Regions from separate parts of the Homo sapiens genome. Here region 2 is linked to region 1. The links come from fine-mapping of genetic effects on gene expression. A gene starts in region 1. The other region holds a variant in brackets. All regions are shown on one strand. Distances are from middle to middle.

Region 1 (8,336 bases):
AAGTAAAATGTATGCTTTATTTGATAGTAATGAGTGCTAAGGGGAAAATTATAAAGGAGGGAAGAAAGACAGGAGGTGTTGGAGGATGGGGATAAGTAAGACTACAGGACAAGAAAGGACTGGAAGCCGGGCGCAGTGGCTCACACCTGTAATCCCAGCACTTTGGGGGCTGAGGTGGGCAGATCGCAAGGTCAGGATGTTCAAGACCAGCCTGACCAACATGGTGAAACCCTGTCTCTTCTAAAAATACAAAAATTAGCCGGGCATGGTGGTGCGCGCCTATAATCCCAGCTACTCAGGAGGCTGAGGCAGGAGAATCACTTGAACCCAGGAGGGGCAGGTTGTGGTGAGCTGAGATCGCACCACTGCGCTCTAGCCTGGGCAACAGAGCCAGACTCCATCTCAAAAAAGAAAAGAAAGGACTTGAGAGCTGTGACACAGAAAAGTAACTGCTGTGCATCTGAGTTTCTTCATCTTTAAAATAAGAAATAATAGCATCTTCCTGAGGATAGCTCAGGCCCCTAGACTGCTTTTGTCACTTTTAAGCTTATGAGGTTTGGGGTACTGACAAAGATTCTCTCCTTGACCAAACTTTACCCACGCTGTTCTGATCTGTCTTCTCAATAGGCTCTGACTTTTGGACTTCCATGACTCTGCATTGTCCAATTTTAGGAAGAATCCTGCTAAGTTAGTTTAGCCAGAATCTCCCCTTACTCCCAATATTTCCTTTTAGTAATTTTCCATCCACTGACCCTGATTTTTGGCTGTAAATCCCTACTTTTCCTTGTATTTGGAATTGAGCCCGATCTCTCCTTCCTACTACAAAACCCCATTGTCATAGGCCCTTGTATTACCTATCTTGGCAGTCCCCCTTGAATAAAGATTTGCTTTACAATTTTTTTTTTTTTTTTGAGAAGGAGTCTCGCTCTGTCGTCCAGGCTGGAGGGCAATGGTGTGATCTTGGCTCACTGCAACCTCCACCTCCTGGGTTCAAGCAATTCTCCTGTCTCAGCCTCCCAAGTAGCTGGGATTACAGGTATCCACCACCATGCCCGGCTAATTTTTTGTATTTTTAGTAGAGATAAGATTTCATTATGTTGGCCAGGCTGGTTTCGAACCCCTGACCTCAAGTTATCCGCCCGCCTTGGCCTCCCAAAGTGCTAGGAGTACAGGTGTGAGCCACCGCCTCTGGCCTGCTTTACAGTTCTTTAACAAATGTCATGAAGTATTTTTTCTTTAACAGTATAATTATTTGGCCTCTCAGAACCTCGGTTTCCTCATCTGTAAAATGAACAGATTGTCCAGACTATTTCACAGGGTTTTTGAAAATGTCAGAGGAGATCATTATGATATGTGAAAATATTTTAAATTGCATTATCTATTATGTAAATGTAAGATGGAAATTTAAAGGAAACACATACACAGTTTTTTCATGGGTTGAGATCTCTTGCTATTGGTCAGCAGAGCCTCAGGAATGCAAGTAGACAATGAATTAGATAACTGCTTATACTGATTCCCTGCATTGGCAGGGAAAAGGCCAATGCAAATTATCAGGATGTACTGTGTGGACTACCAATCTTATCTTAGATCAGTGATACAACAATCCAACTAAATGCTCCTAAGTGGACACCTCATAAAATAATTATTGTATGGCATTTGTCAAAATTTTAAATGCTTTACAGCTCCTTTGTTTGTTCTTGTTTTGTCTGTGGGATTTCATTTCTAGGAAAATAACTAAATGGACTAAGTTTAAAAAAAAAAAACACCAATCATGTACATTACTAAGGGCAGACAGTCCATCTTCTGGATATTTCTGAAGATGCTCAATAAACGTTAATCAAAGTAGGTAATGATTCCCAACATGGGCTATTGTGTCTTCCACGTTTATTTTCTACACTTGATGTTAGCCAAAAGGCCAAGGAGCAATTCCATTTTCTTTCTTTCCTTCTTTCTTTTCTGAGACAAGTCTCACTCCGTCGCCCAGGCTGGAGTGCAGTGGCGCCATCTCAGCTCACTGCAACCTCCATCTCCCGGGTTCAAGCAATTCTCTGCCTCAGCCTCCTGAGTGGCTGGGATTACAGGCGCCCGCCACCAAGCCCAGCTAATTTTTTTGTATTTTTAGTAGAGACGGGGTTTCACCATCTTGGCCAGGCTGGTCTTGAACTCCTGACCTCGTGATCCACCCGCCTCAGCCTCCCAAAGTGCTGGGATTACAGGTGTGAGCCACCGCGCCTGGCCGTTTATTTTAATATATTCTTCAGCTCTGAATATTTGCTAGTATCCCAGTAATAGTTTGTTAAATCAATAAACGTGTTGACATACATGCATAGCATAATGTCTGGCACACAGTAGGTACTCCATTGAATGAATGCATGAATTATTACCGTGTCAATTTGCTTGTCTATTTGCAAATGTTAATAGTTAATTTGATCCCTAAAGTGTTTGTGAACTTAAAACACACACATACGCACTTTCCCTGACAACGCTTATCTGCTAACCCCTTAATTATGTTCATCTGAGACTGGACCAAAACATGTTGTTTTATTCAATTTAAATACCAAATTCAAATTTATTTTGAATATAGCTTAGAACACATTCAATGTTTGCTAAAATAATAATAATAATAATAATAATAATAATAATAATAATACCATGTACATTCAGTTAGCCAGACAATTACTCCAGCCCAAATACCCTGCTATGGGACATGAACCGGATGTCTGCCCGGCACACATTCATCAGGTGACCCCTAAAACTTCTTCTCTAAGGTCCACACTGTCTAATAGCCAAGTTGAAATCTTTCCTCGAAATTTTCCTCTCTAGTGTCTCAGTGCCCCAGGTGTCATCAAGGTGTCAAAGGCGCTTGGGAGTGCCTGCAAACCGCCCCATCCCCGGAGACACAGCCTCATTCCCCGCCCTCGCGCCTAGGCGGCCGGTGGGCGGGCCCAGCGAAGGGCCTTGTGGCTGTTTCCTATTGGGGCTTGGTTGCTATGGTGTCACTCGCCTTTAAACTCGTGGGTACATCTTTCGGAAATTAAAGGAGAATTACTTCCAGGGCTGCCCATACTTGCCATGGCCGACTCAGTAGTCACTAACTTCAACAAAAATAAAACTGTTGCAATAGTATTCTATTAAAGCTTCTTTAACTGCTTAAACTTGCGGTTTTGACATGGTACCTATCCTTTCTTCCCTTTTCAAAAGATTCGCTATAGAGTCTTTCTCTACATGCCAGTCTCCAAAATGGCGCGGACGGCATCAGAAGGTCAGAGGTGAGTCACGTGGGTCCCCCCGGTTCCGGCGCGGTTGAGGCCTTCGGTGGTGAACGAGTCTCCAGCACCATGTCTGGTTTGTCTGGCCCACCAGCCCGGCGCGGCCCTTTTCCGTTAGCGTTGCTGCTTTTGTTCCTGCTCGGCCCCAGATTGGTCCTTGCCATCTCCTTCCATCTGCCCATTAACTCTCGCAAGTGCCTCCGTGAGGAGATTCACAAGGACCTGCTAGTGACTGGCGCGTACGAGATCTCCGACCAGTCTGGGGGCGCTGGCGGCCTGCGCAGCCACCTCAAGGTGCGGCATTGGGCGACGTGGGGCCGGGAGGGAAGACGGCAGGCTTAGGCGAGGGGAGGCTCGGGTTCGGGGGAGTCGGGCCGGCGGAGGCCTGGGAGTTGTTCTGGCCTCCCGGGAGCGCAAAGGACGTGCGGTGGAGCCCGCCCCCTCACCCCGCTGGTTGCCTGTCGCGGGGCGGGGCGGGTCACCAACGCCTGGGAACCCCAAGAAGGGCTGCGAGGCTTTGGCGGATGTGGTGACACCTGAGCTGGGGCGGTTGTCAACGTCCTATACCAGTTTTGGTCTCAGATACATTGAACCGTAATTTGGTTCTCCAAATAAATGTTGGGGTGTTGAATATTTATACGGATTGGCATCATAAGATACCGCGATACCTGCAGGAAAGTAAAGGAGACAGAGCTAACCGTGATTAATAAAATGTTATTTATTGAGCATCTGCTGTGTCAGTTACTGTGCTACTTTGCATATATTACCATTTGGTTCATGCACTACCCTATGAAGTAGGTAGGTACTGTTAGCCCCATTTTACAAATGAGGAAACTGAGACTCAGAGGTAGGATAAACTAGTAAGTGTCACAGATGGAATAGATTCTTTTTTTTTTTTCAAAATTATTATTATACTTTAAGTTCTAGGGTACATGCGCACAACTTTCAGGTTTGTTACATATGTATACATGTGCCGTGTTGGTGTGCTGCACCCATTAACTCGTCATTTACATTAGGTATGTCTCCTAATGCTATCCCTCCCACCTCCCCCCACCCCACGACAGGCCCCGGTGTGTGATGTTCCCCACCCTGTGTCCAAGTGTTCTCATTGTTCAATTCCCACCTATGAGTGAGAACATGCGGTGTTTGGTTTTCTGTCCTTGCGATGGAATAGATTCTTACTTAGTTTGGTAGTTAAGTATGTTGAGGGAAAAGCGCTGCAACCTTATTCCTTCCTTGTTTTAAATTTGTAATTTCTGTAGTTGATTAAAGTCGATTATTGGTTACAAAATGGTCTCAGTCTCTAGTCCTTTTTCTTTGGTATGCCAGAATCTGGACTTGGCTCTTTTATGTAAATACCAACTATGCTCTTGGATGGTGACAACTACTGCCATAATACCAGTTTGATTCTGTTTTGTAGCTAAGAGTAGCCTGGCCTGGTCTTTGAGACATTAATATAATTTGATATCTGTCAGTATTTGGTTGCATTTTAGGTAATTTTATTCATTCACAATAAGCAAAGTGTCTTTTTTTTTCTTTGTAACACAATGGGGCTTTTGTTATACTAAATAGAAACATTTTTACTTTTTTTTTTTTTTTTTTTTTTTTTGAGACGGAGTCTTGCTCTGTCGTCCAGGCTGGAGTGCTGTGGCGCGATCTCGGCTCACTGCAGCCTCTGCCTCCCGGTTTCAAGCAATTCTCCTGCCTCAGCCTTCCGAGTAGCTAGGACTACAGGCGCCAGCCACCACACCCAGCTAATTTTTGTATTTTAGTAGAGATGACGGTTCACCATGTTGGCCAGGATGGTCTTGATCTCTTGACCTCGTGATCTGCCCGCCTCGGCCTCCCAAAGTGCTGGGATTACAGCCGTAAGCCACCGCGCCTGGCCTCGTTTTTACTTTTTAAAAGGGTTTCAGATATAATAAGACCATAACTTATGTTAAAGTAGTGGAACCCAGTAGTGTGGTAATACATGTAATTTATTTCTACTTTATTTGGGAGAGACAAACTATTTTCAGGGCAATTAATCTGTGACCCATCATTTTATTATTCTGTTTGGGTATCAAACTCTCTACCCAGGAAAATAGTGATGGCATGATTTTAGAAGCTTAGATATAGTGTTTCCGGGGTGGGAGATCATGCTTCCAACTCTTCAGAGGATGTTCATGGACTCAGGGAATTTCAGCAATGAAAGAGACCTTGCTCTCATCTCGTGTTGCTGTCTGATTTGTTCTTATATTTTAAAGCCCTTCAGTGGCTCACTATTGCTTATTGATAGTTTAAATTTCTCAACATGCTTTGTTGTGCTCTTCATGATCTGTTTCTGAGCTATACGTGTGGTCACTTCCCACTTTGCATTCTACATGGAGCCACCCTGGACAGTACCCTGAACTCACTTATTTTCTGAACTGTTTTTGTTTATGCCTTGACCTACTTACTAGACTGTTAGTATCCTCAGGGTAGGAACTATTTTCAGGTTCATCTTTTCTAGAATGCCAAGCATGTTACCTTGCTTCTAGTAAGTACTCTATAAATAACAGGAACTGTAGTTTAGCATGGCCTTATGGGAATTACATTGAATTTAGGGCTGCTGAAGGCACCTCAACAGCAGGACTTTAGGCCGGGCTTGGTGGGTCATGCCTGTAACCCTAACTCTTTGGGAGGCCGAGGCGGGTGGATCACCTGAGGTCAGGAGTTCAAGACCAGCCTCAGCAACATGCTAAAATCCAGTCTCTACTAAAAATACAAAAATTAGCTGGGCATGGTGGCGTGTGCCTGTAATCCCAGCTACCCGGGAGGCTGAGGCAGGAGAATCACTAGAACCTGGGAGGCAGTGGCTGCAGTGAGCTGACACCGTGCCACTGCACTCCAGCCTGGGCAACAGAACAAGACTCGGTCTCAAAACAAAACAAAACAAAGCAAAACAAAAACCAGCAGGACTTTGTGCACACACCCTAGCACTTTACTATCACTCAGTTGCTCTCCTGTGTCTGCTCTGTTCTTTTGCTACTAACCAGCTTAATGGAACCACAAGGGTCCTAAACCCAAATGCCAAATAGGTAATATCATTGAATAAATTGGACCAGGTATTTTAAAAAAAAAAGCAGTGATGATAAATGGGAGAATAATTGGACGTAGTAGAAACTGTTAATTAGGGGTGACCAATACTTAGTTCTTGATGAGACTTGCCATGCAAGCATGTGGGCCTTTTTGCCACATCTGATTTTTCCCTTCCCCTCCCCTCCCCTCTTCCTTCCCTTCCTTCCTTTCTTCCTCCCTCTCTCCCTCCCTCCCTCCAGTGGCACCATCACAGCTCACTGCAGCCTTGACCTCCTCAGGGCCCAGGTGATCCTCCTACTTCAGGCTCCTGAGTAGCTGGGATTACAGGCACATGCCACCATATCCGGCTAGTTTTCATATTTGTTTGTAGAAATGGAGTTTCGCCATGTTACCCAGGCTGGTCTCGAACTCCTGGGCTCAAGTGATCCGCCCATCTCGGCCTCCCAAAGTGCTCGGATTACAGGCATGAGCCATTGCACCTAGCCCACATCTGATTTTTCAAATGAAATAGGAACACCAGATTTTGATGTGAAAGCTCCAGACTTTTAAATTTCATCAGCCAGGTTTCAGCACTGCAGAGCTTGGGAGCTCCCGGCCCACCCGAGGGCCATGGATCTCATTGTCCTCACCACTGCTTTGCCACTCCATTTTCCTCAATAAAATGGTTTGGCCCCCTAAAAATTAAAAAAAAAAAATTTCACCAGCCAATTCAGATTGGTTCGGGCATTGATTTGTTTTCAGTGTTATAGGGAATAGTATAGTGAGTTCACCTTTCTACCCATTACTCATATTCACCAATTATCAGGATCTTTCCACACGTGTCATCTTAACTGCTTCTGCCATATCATTTCATGCTAAATTGTATTAAAGTAAATCCCAGATGTCATGTATTTCATTCCTGCCTACTTCAGCATGCATCTCTTTAAAAATATAAACCACAATGTTACGTGGCTAATCACGCCTCACAAAATGAACAATGATGGCCAGGCGCGGTGGCTCATGCCTGTAATCCCAGCACTTTGGGAGGCCGAGGTGGGCGAATCACGAGGTCAGGAGTTCGAGACCAGCCTGACCAACACGGTGAAACCCCGTCTCTACTAAAAATTTAAAAAAAAATTAGCTGGGCGTGGTGGCACACATCTGTAATCCCAGCTGCTCTAGGCTGAGGCAGGAGAATCTCTTGAACCTGGGAGGCGGAAGTTGCAGTGAAGTATGATTGTGCCACTGCACTCCTACCTGGGCTACAGAGTGAGACTCTGTCTCCAAAAAAAAAAAAAGAACAATGATTCCTTGATACCCAGTCCATATAGTATGATCCCACTTGTCTCAAAAATATCTTTTGAAAGTTAATTTGTTGTCTCTCTCAAGTGTCTAATCTAGAGCAGTCTCCTCTTCCTCTCACCTCCTTTTTTATCCTTGCAATTGAATTGTTGGAGTCAATTGCTCTTAAAAGAATGTACAGCATTTCGGAGTTGTCTTTTGCTTCCTAGAGGTGTCTTTTAACCAGTTCTTCCACTATATTTTTTGTAAAAGGAATCAGCTGTAAAGATGTAACCAGAGGTTCAGCAAACCACCATGGCACACGTATACCTATGTAACAAACCTGCACGTTCTGCACATGTACCCCTCCAGAACTTAAAGTGTAAAAAAAAAAAAAAAGATGTAACCAGATTCAGGTTTAATCTTTCTGTCGAGGGTGTCACTGCAGGAACACACAGTACTTTTTGTGCCCCTTATTGCTGCTGCTAAGATTGATAAGTGGATTAAGGTGTGTCTTAGTGTCCTATTGCTGCTGTAACAAATTACCACAGATTTATGGCCTAAAACATCAGGGATTTGTCTTAATCGTTCTGAAGGTCAGAAGTCCTAAAATCAGGGTTTTGGCAGAGCCATGTTTCTTCTGGAGACTTTTTGGGAGTGGGGTGGGGATCAGTTTTCTTGCCCTTTCTAGCTTCTAGAAGCCACTTGTATTCTTTGGCTCATATCTCCTTCCTCCATCTTTAAAGC
Region 2 (8,336 bases), 54 kb before region 1:
TTTCCTCTCTGCCCTTTCTCCTACCCACTTGTCTCCCTTCTTGGCAGCCTAGAGAACTTAAATTCATTCTTCAGTACTCAGCTCAAAGGTTACCCACCCTGGCACTTTCCCCTTCCCTTCCCTCTCCCCGTCTCGCACATGGTATGCAGAATTCTAAGATGGCCTCCAAGATTTCTGTCTCCTGGTATACACATCTTACATAATCCCCTCTCCTTGAGTGTTGGCAGCATTTGTGAATATGATGGGATGTCACTCTCTTGATTATGGTAAAAAGGATTTTGCAGATGTAATTAAGGTCCCTAATCAGCTGATTTTGGGTTAATCAAAAGGGAGTTTAGTCTGGCTAGGTCTGTCCTAATTAGGGGAGACCTTCAAAAAGGGACTAGGGGCCAGGCATGATGGCTTATGCCTATAACCCAGCACTTTGGGAGGCAAGAGGACCTCTTGAGCCCAGGGGTTGTAGAACAGCTGAGGCAGCATAGGAAGACCCCCATCTCTACAAAGAAAAAATTGTTTTAATTAGCCAGGCATGGTGGCATATGCCTGTAGTCCCAGCTACTTGGGAGGCTGAGCGGGAGGATGGCCTAAGCCCAGGAGTTCGAGGCTGCAGTGAGCTGTGATCGCATCACTGCACTCCAGTCTGGGTGACAGAGTGAAACCCTGTCTCAAAAATAAATAAATAGCCAGGCACGCTGGCTCATGCCTGTAATCCCAGCACTTTGGGAGGCCGAGGCAGGTGGATCACCTCAGGTCAGGAGTTTGAGACCAGCCTGGCCAACATGGTAAAACCCCATCTCTACTAAAAATACAAAATTAGCTGGGCATGGTGGTACATGCCTGTAATCTCAGCTACTCAGGAGACTGACATGGGAGAATCACTTGAACCCAGGAGGTAGAGATTGGAGCAAGCCAAGATCATACCATTGCACTCCAGCCTGGGCAACAAGAGCAAAACTCTATCTCAAAATAAATAAATAATAAAACCCTGAAAACAAAAAGGGACTAGGATCCTCCCTGAAGTCAAAGAGAATTTCCTGCTAGTCTTGAAGAAGAAAGCTGCCACCTTATGAGAGGATGTGTGAAGTGGGCCATGTGACAAAGACTTGAGGGAAGCCTCTAGTTGATAAGAGTGGCCCCTGGTGACAGCTGCCAAGACAACAAAGGCCTCAATCATACAGATGCAAGAAACTAAATTCTGCCAACAATCACGTGAGCCTGGAAGAGGACCTCAACCTCCAGAAAGAAATGCAACCCGGCAGACACCTTGATTGTCAGCTTGTGAGACCCTGAGCAGAGGACTTGGTTCAGCCATACCTGTACCCCTGACACATGGAAACTGTGAGATAATACATTGTTGTTGCTTTAAGCTGCTAAATTGTAGTAATTTATTACATAGTAGTAGGAAACTAATACCACCACCCCTCCCAAGAATTCTTCATCTTCTGGATTCTGTAGCACATTGCACTCATCAGTATTATAACCCTCCCTACACCATATCATACTTATCCCCCACACATCTGCCACCCTACTGTCACTGCAATCCCAGGCCCAGTCTTCTTTGGGCGTGGTACCAAGTATCTGGGAGCTAATAGGTAGGAAGTAATACATGCTTGTTGAATTAATGTCATGCAAACCCAAAATTGGCTGCTATCTCTACTGCCTGAGTATTTTTAACAGAGGTAATCTTTTCTTTTTCTTTTTCTTTCTTTTCTTTTCTTTTTTTTTAGACCAAGTCTCACTCTGTTGCCCAGGCTGGTGTGCAGTGGTGTGATCTCAGCTCACTGCAACCTCTGCCTCCTGGGTTCAAGCGATTCTAGTGCCTCAGCCTCCCGAGTAGCTGGGACTACAGGCGGGAGTCACCACGCCCAGCTAATTTTTGTATTTTTAGTAGAGACAGGGTTTTACCATGTTTACCAGGCTGGTCTCGAACTCCTGACCTCAGATGTTCCACCCAGCTTGGCCTCCCAAAGTGCTGGGATTACAGGTGTGAGCCACCGTGCCCGGCCAGAGGTAATCTTTCTGACATCTTGTGTGTGTGTAGGGCTGGCTCAGTTGTCCATAACATTTTGTATGTACATACATAGATTTAATTATTAATTTAATGAATTCTATAGTAGCCCCTAAAAGAAGATATGGTTTCAGATTTCCCCTCTGGTTTTAGGCTATAACATTTCTCTTGAATGTTCTGAGAATATCAGATCCTCCATGACAATGTCTTTAAAATTGTGTCGAGTAACACTAACCCTTAAATGGGCTGTGGGCAGCTGTCAAGTTTCAGGCCTCAACTCTTGGCAAGACATTGTCTCTCTCAGAGGCCTTTAGAATGTCTCCAAAGCACGCTACAGTGTATCTGCTGAACTGTTAGCCAACAGCCTCTGTATCTCATGGGCAGGTATCAGTTTCACTGTTGTAATATCCCCTCAACAACCATTGCAATGGCCAGGACATGTGGCCTGGCCTGTGGTTCAGAAACATAGTCACTGTAGCCATATATGACCCCAGAAACAGGGAACAGGTCTATGAGGTTGATTTGCCTGATTCCTACTCCACCCCCACATATGTGTATGCACACACACAGACACATACATGCATGTGTGCACACACACCCATATACATGCAGGTGTGCACACACACCCATATACACGCATGTGTGCACACACATGCACCCACCTTATTGGCGCCACTGATAATATAAAATACCTGTAACAAGGGACAGAACTTTTTATTTTTCTATGTGTAAGAAGATTTATGGGGTAAAAGCTCCTGAATAGGCCGGGCGCGGTGGCTCGTGTCTGTAATTCCAGCACTTTGGGAGTCTGAGGCAGGTGGATCACAAGCTCAAGAGATCAAGACCATACTAGCCAACATGGTGAAACCCCATGTCTACTAAAAATACAAAACTTCGCTGGGCGTGGTGGCGCACTCCTATAGTCTCAGCCACTAAGGAGGCTGAGGCAAGAGAATTGCTGGAACCCTGGAGGTGGAGGTTGCAGTGAGCCAAGATCACGCCTGGGAAACAGAGCGAGACTCCAGAAAAAAAAAGAAAGAAGAAGAGAGAGAGCGAGAGAAAGGAAGAAAAAAGAAAGGAAGGAAGGAAGGAAGGAAGGAAGGAAGGAAGGAAGGAAGAGAGAGGAGGGATTTCTCAAGGATCAGCGTATCTAAGCCAAAGGCCTTAGGGGAAGGGAGAGAAAGGAAGTGCGGGGCTTGGCAGGCACCTCTCCCTGCCTTTGATTCAGACATTCCTGGTGCTTACTGGGTGTAGACACTTTTCTCTCAGCCTGCTTCCTTGTAGGCAAAATGGGTGTAATAATCGCACTCACCTCATGGGGTTATTTTAAGAATTATATGAAACAATGCATGTTAGGCAGACAATTCAAGGCTCAGCACACAGAAAGCCACCCTTTAGCTATTACCAGTATTTGACCTGTAATCAGGCTCAAAGAGTGTCTTTTAGGGTCTCAAAAATTGGGTGCAAATTGGCTCTCCTCAGTAGTTGGTGGTTGCTCATCAGGTGTTTAGGACGTCTGCAAAGTAAGGAGGTCTGACAGACTCCTCATTGTAAGCTGTTCCCTAGTCACTCTGCCCCCATAC[T/C]GGGAGTGGCAAGGGAGGCATTTGGCAAGAAACCCAGCAGTGAGACAATAGGTGTGAAAGATGAACAGGAAGTGTGGTTTGGAAGCAAGTGCTAGCACCAAACCACTCATGGAGAACACCTAATCTGGCTGCTGATTGGGCGCTGAGCCATCACTCATATCAAGCTTCAATGGGAAGGTTTGTATCCATGCCCAAACTTACAGCACACGGACCTTCACCAGGGAGATTGACTGAACTGGTGACCAAGGGCTCCCTTGAGACAGCATGGCCTTTGGCCTTCCAGGTTCAAATCCTAGGTCACTCAGTTACTACCTGAGGCACATTATTTAACCTCTTGGAGCCCCATCTGTCTTATCTTTGAAACAGGCATGGCTGTTGGGAGGGTTAGTGGAGATAACATGGAAAGAGCCTAGCACAGGGCCTGGCCCACTCCACAAATGCGAGCTCCCTCCCATTTCCCCTCCCAGGCATCTGAGACACCCCTCCACCCCTTCCTTGTCTCCTCACTGAAGACAGTTAAGCATGCTGTCTGGGGATGACGCCAGTTCTTGATTATTTGATATTGCCACACATCTGGCCTTATCACTGACTATTGACTATAAGACTGGCTGCCCTCTGCTCCACCTGGCTCCTTCCGGCCAGGTGGCTTCTCCTGACGCACTTGGACAACAGTGAAGGGTTGGGCCAGGTCGCCTGGTGGCACCAGGGTTGATGTGAAAGAGTTTTTCCTCAATATTCCAAACTTAAGAGAAGGAATGACTTTAAAAATGCATATGTATCTGCATGCCTGAAACACACACCTTTGAGAAGTTTCCTTCCTTTGAGTACCCAGACTGCAGTTGTTCTGACAAGTGCCCTGCCTGATCCTCCCTCTGAACACTTTCGTAGTTCCCAAGCTTCTCTTCCAGATAATCTAGGGTTCCTGTTTCTCAGCTCATCTCCTAAATGTTGGGGTTCTAGGAGATTCTGCCGTCAGTGCCCCCACCCACCATGCTCTCTGCATGACCTCAACCACAGCCATACCCTGCTGAGTTCCGAATCCATCTGCCTGGCTCTTCTGCCCACACATCTGCATACACAGCTGCCTCCATTTCCACCTGGTGGTTCTTAGACTTAACGTGTACAAAACAGAATGATGGATCTTCTTGACACACACCTAATTCTTCTATATTCTGTGCCCCAGTAAATGGCATGTCCTGCAAACCCAGAAGCATAAGCAAATCTCTTGATCTCCCTCTTCTGTTAATTCTATTTCCTTAGTATCTCTTGACTGTATCCCCTCCTTCCCATCTACCTTCCACCTCTGCATTCTGGCTGCCGCTGTATCTCCCCTGTAACACGGGAACCACGGCCTCAGTGGGCTCCTTGCTTCTAGTCGTTGTTCTCCACCATTGCCCCTAGAGACAACTTTCTAAAATGTAAATCTGACGGCACGCCTCCTCTTACTTAAAAATCTCTCAGCCAGGAGCGATAGCTCACGCCTGTAATCCCAGCACTTTGGGAGGCTGAGGCGGGCAGATCATGAGGTCAGGAGATTGAGACCAGCCTGACCAACATGGAGAAATTCCGTCTCTACTAAAAATACAAAAATTATCCGAGCGTGGTGGTGCATGCCTGTAATCCCAGCTACTCGGGAGGCTGAGGCAGGAGAATCGCTTGAATCCGGGAGGCGGAGGTTGCAGTGAGCCAAGATTGTGCCATTGCACTCCAGCCTGGCAACAAGAGTGAAACTGTCTCAAAAACAAAAACAAAAACCTCTCAAGGGCCCTTTCTCAGTCAAGGTCCAGACGGGGAACTGAAATCACACCAGCTATTGTAACACATTGTAACAGGGTCAATTTAAGATAAAGAATTGTTTACTAGGTCCAAAACAAAAAAGAATTGTTAACTTCAACTTGGAAAGTGAAATGACAAAGAGAACACTGAGGTATCACTGAGGCAGCAACTGCAGGAAACAGCTACTCCTCCTCCCAGGACTGTGGGAACAAAGGGAAAAAGGTGGGATTATTCATTTAGGGAGGAGGGATCCATGGCTTTAATGATAAGAAACAAACTAGTATGACATGCAAAGTCCTCGTGGTCTGTCCCCTGCTTTCTTTCTGGCTTCCTCTGTAGTCACAGCACCGGCTTCCTCATCCTCAGCCCAGGCTGAGCCACTCTGCTCTCACCACTCCATGCTTTTTACACGTGCAGCTGCTGCCTGGAATACTGTTCTTCACCCTTTTTCCTGGTAACTCACCATTCATTCACAAGACTTTGCTGACCGCTGCCCCACTTCAGGCTGAGTTCAGTAGCCCCCTTTCTTTTCTTTTCTTTTCTTTTTTTATTTTTTTGAGACGGAGTTTCACTCTTGTTGCCCAGGCTGGAGTGCAATGGCACAATCTCAGCTCACTGCAACCTCCACCTCCTGGGTTCAAGCGATTCTCCTGCCTCAGCCTCCTGAGTAGCTGGGATTACAGGCAAATGCCACCACACCTGGCTAATTTTTTGTATATTTTAGTAGAGACAGGGTTTCACCATGTTGGTCAGGCTGGTCTCGAACTCCCGACCTCAGGTGATCTGCTCACCTCAGCCTCCCCAAGTGCTAGGATTACAGGCATGAGCCACCGTGCCCAGCCTCAGTGGCCCCCTTTCTTTTATTTTTTTGAGACAAGGTCTTGCTCTGTCACCCAGGCTAGGTGCAGTGGCACGATCTCAACTCACTGCAGCCTCAACCTCCCGGGCTCAAGCAATGCTCCCATGACAGCCTCCCAAGTAGCCAGGACTACAGGCACGTGTCACCATGCCCAGCAAATATGTAAATGTTTTGTAGAGACGGGGTTTCACCATGTTGCCCAGGGTGGTCTTGAACTCCTAGACTTAAGCCATCCACCTGCCTCGGCCTCCGAAAGTGCTGGGATTACAAGTGTGAGCCACCGTGCCCAGCCTCAGTGGCCCCCTTTCTTAAGGGCACCCATAACATGCTGGTCATATCACTACCACATCACACTGTATCATCATTGTCAGTTTAGTCATCTACGAGCTCCATGGGACAGGACAGGGGCAGTCCCTTTTTTCTCTTTGCCCCTCCAGTTTTCAGTATTGGCAGGTACCATGCACTCATTACATTGTTGAGTATTAAAATCAAACCCATGTTGCCTCTCATATAAATAAATAGTATTCTCCTGCCTGATTTCCCCACCAAATCCAACCTTCCTAAGGGCCAGCTCTGGTCCTATCTCTCTAATAATCAAAAAATCTTCAGTGGCTCCCCATTGTCTGTGGCATAAAGTCCAAACTCCTTAGCATGCCATGTCTGGTGTTGTCTCTGACCTTGCTATCTAGGCTTATTGCCCCCTACACCCCTGCATGCACCACCCCTGCCAGGCTCCTCCCATGCCAGGCCACTCTATTTCCTCAGCACCTTGGACTCTGTCCCTCTGGATCAGAGTTCACTCTGTTACCTTCACCTGGAATACCTTTTGGGGCTACCTTTCCCTGTTGCAATTCTCACCAACCTTCAGGGCCTGGTTCCTAGACCATCTGCCTCAAGAATCCTTCCTGCATCCTCCTGAAGCAGTGGAGGATCAAGTCTCGAATGTTGAACAGGACCTTTATATCCCTATGGGGTCGGTCTAGCTTCTACTCACTAGTCTCACCTTCTCTCTTCCCACTCACCTCTTTGCTCTGTCTGCCCTAGAATGCTGGCCTTCTCTGGGCTCCTGACATGTGCCAGGCTGTTCCATGCTGCTCAGCCATTGTGCATGCTGTTCCTTCTGTCTGGAAGGCTGTCCTGCTCACCCTTCACCCACCTCACTTTCCTGACCCCAGACCATGTGAGCGCTCTCTATTGGCATTCTGTGTGTGACCTTTTATTCAGTTGTGTCTCCCGGCTCTGCTGGACTCTATACTGCATGAAAGAAGAGACTGTGTGTATCTTTTTAATTATTATTATTATTATTATTTTAAACGGAGTTTCGCTCTTGTTGTGCAGGCCAGAGTGCAATGACGCGATCTCGGCTCACCACAACCTCTGTCTAACAGGTTCAAGTGATTCTCCTGCCTCAGCCTCCTGAGTAGCTGGGATTACAGGCATGCGCCAGCACACCCAGCTAATTTTGTATTTTTAGTAGAGACGGGGGTTTCTCCATGCTGGTCAGGCTGGTCTCGAACTCCTGACCTCAGGTGATCCGCCCGCCTCAGCCTCCCAAAGTACTGGGATTACAGGCATGAGCCACTGCAGCTGGCTACTTTTTATTATTTTTATTTTTTGAGATAGATTCTCGCTCTGTCACCCAGGCTGGAGTGCCGTGGAACAAATCCGGCTCACTGCACCTTCTGCCTCCCAGGCTCAAGCAATCCTCCCACCTCAGTCTGCTGAGTAGCTAGGATTACAGGCGTGCACCACACTCCTGGCTAATTTTTTTTGTATTTTTAGTAGAGATAGAGTTTCACCATGTTGGCCAGGCTGGTCTCGAACTCCTAACCTCAGGTGATCCGCCCTCCTCGGCCTCCCAAAGTGCTGGGATTACAGGTGTGAGCCACCATGCCCAGCCCTGTGCGTGTCTTGTTATCATTCTATCCCTAGTGCTTAGCACAGTGCCTAGGCATACCAGATGCTCAAAAATGTTTATTCACTAACAAGTTTCTCCATTTATACCACTCTCAGCAATCTTCAGCAAAATGGTTATTTGTATATACATACTTTTCCCCATCTTGATCATAAGCTGCCTTTTTTTTTTCTTTTTTTTTTGAGACAGGGTCTC

Evidence for each region. PIP is the estimated chance that this variant, and not a neighbour inherited with it, causes the effect.
Region 2: its variant is fine-mapped to the expression of TMED10 in whole blood (TOPMed, PIP above 0.99).

The regions. Positions count from the first base shown.
Region 1 is chr14:75,171,582-75,179,917 of GRCh38, reverse strand. TMED10 (transmembrane p24 trafficking protein 10) reads left to right here and starts at 3,306. Exons shown (of 5, transcript NM_006827.6): 1 at 3,306-3,563. The coding sequence starts at 3,339. RefSeq lists enhancers at 3,156-3,395, 2,910-3,482.
Region 2 is chr14:75,225,604-75,233,939 of GRCh38, reverse strand. No RefSeq gene overlaps it. Among named protein-coding and RNA genes, the nearest start is that of FOS, 49 kb to the left of the region's middle. RefSeq lists a cis regulatory region at 3,642-4,197. The variant T/C (reference allele first, on the strand shown) is at 3,592.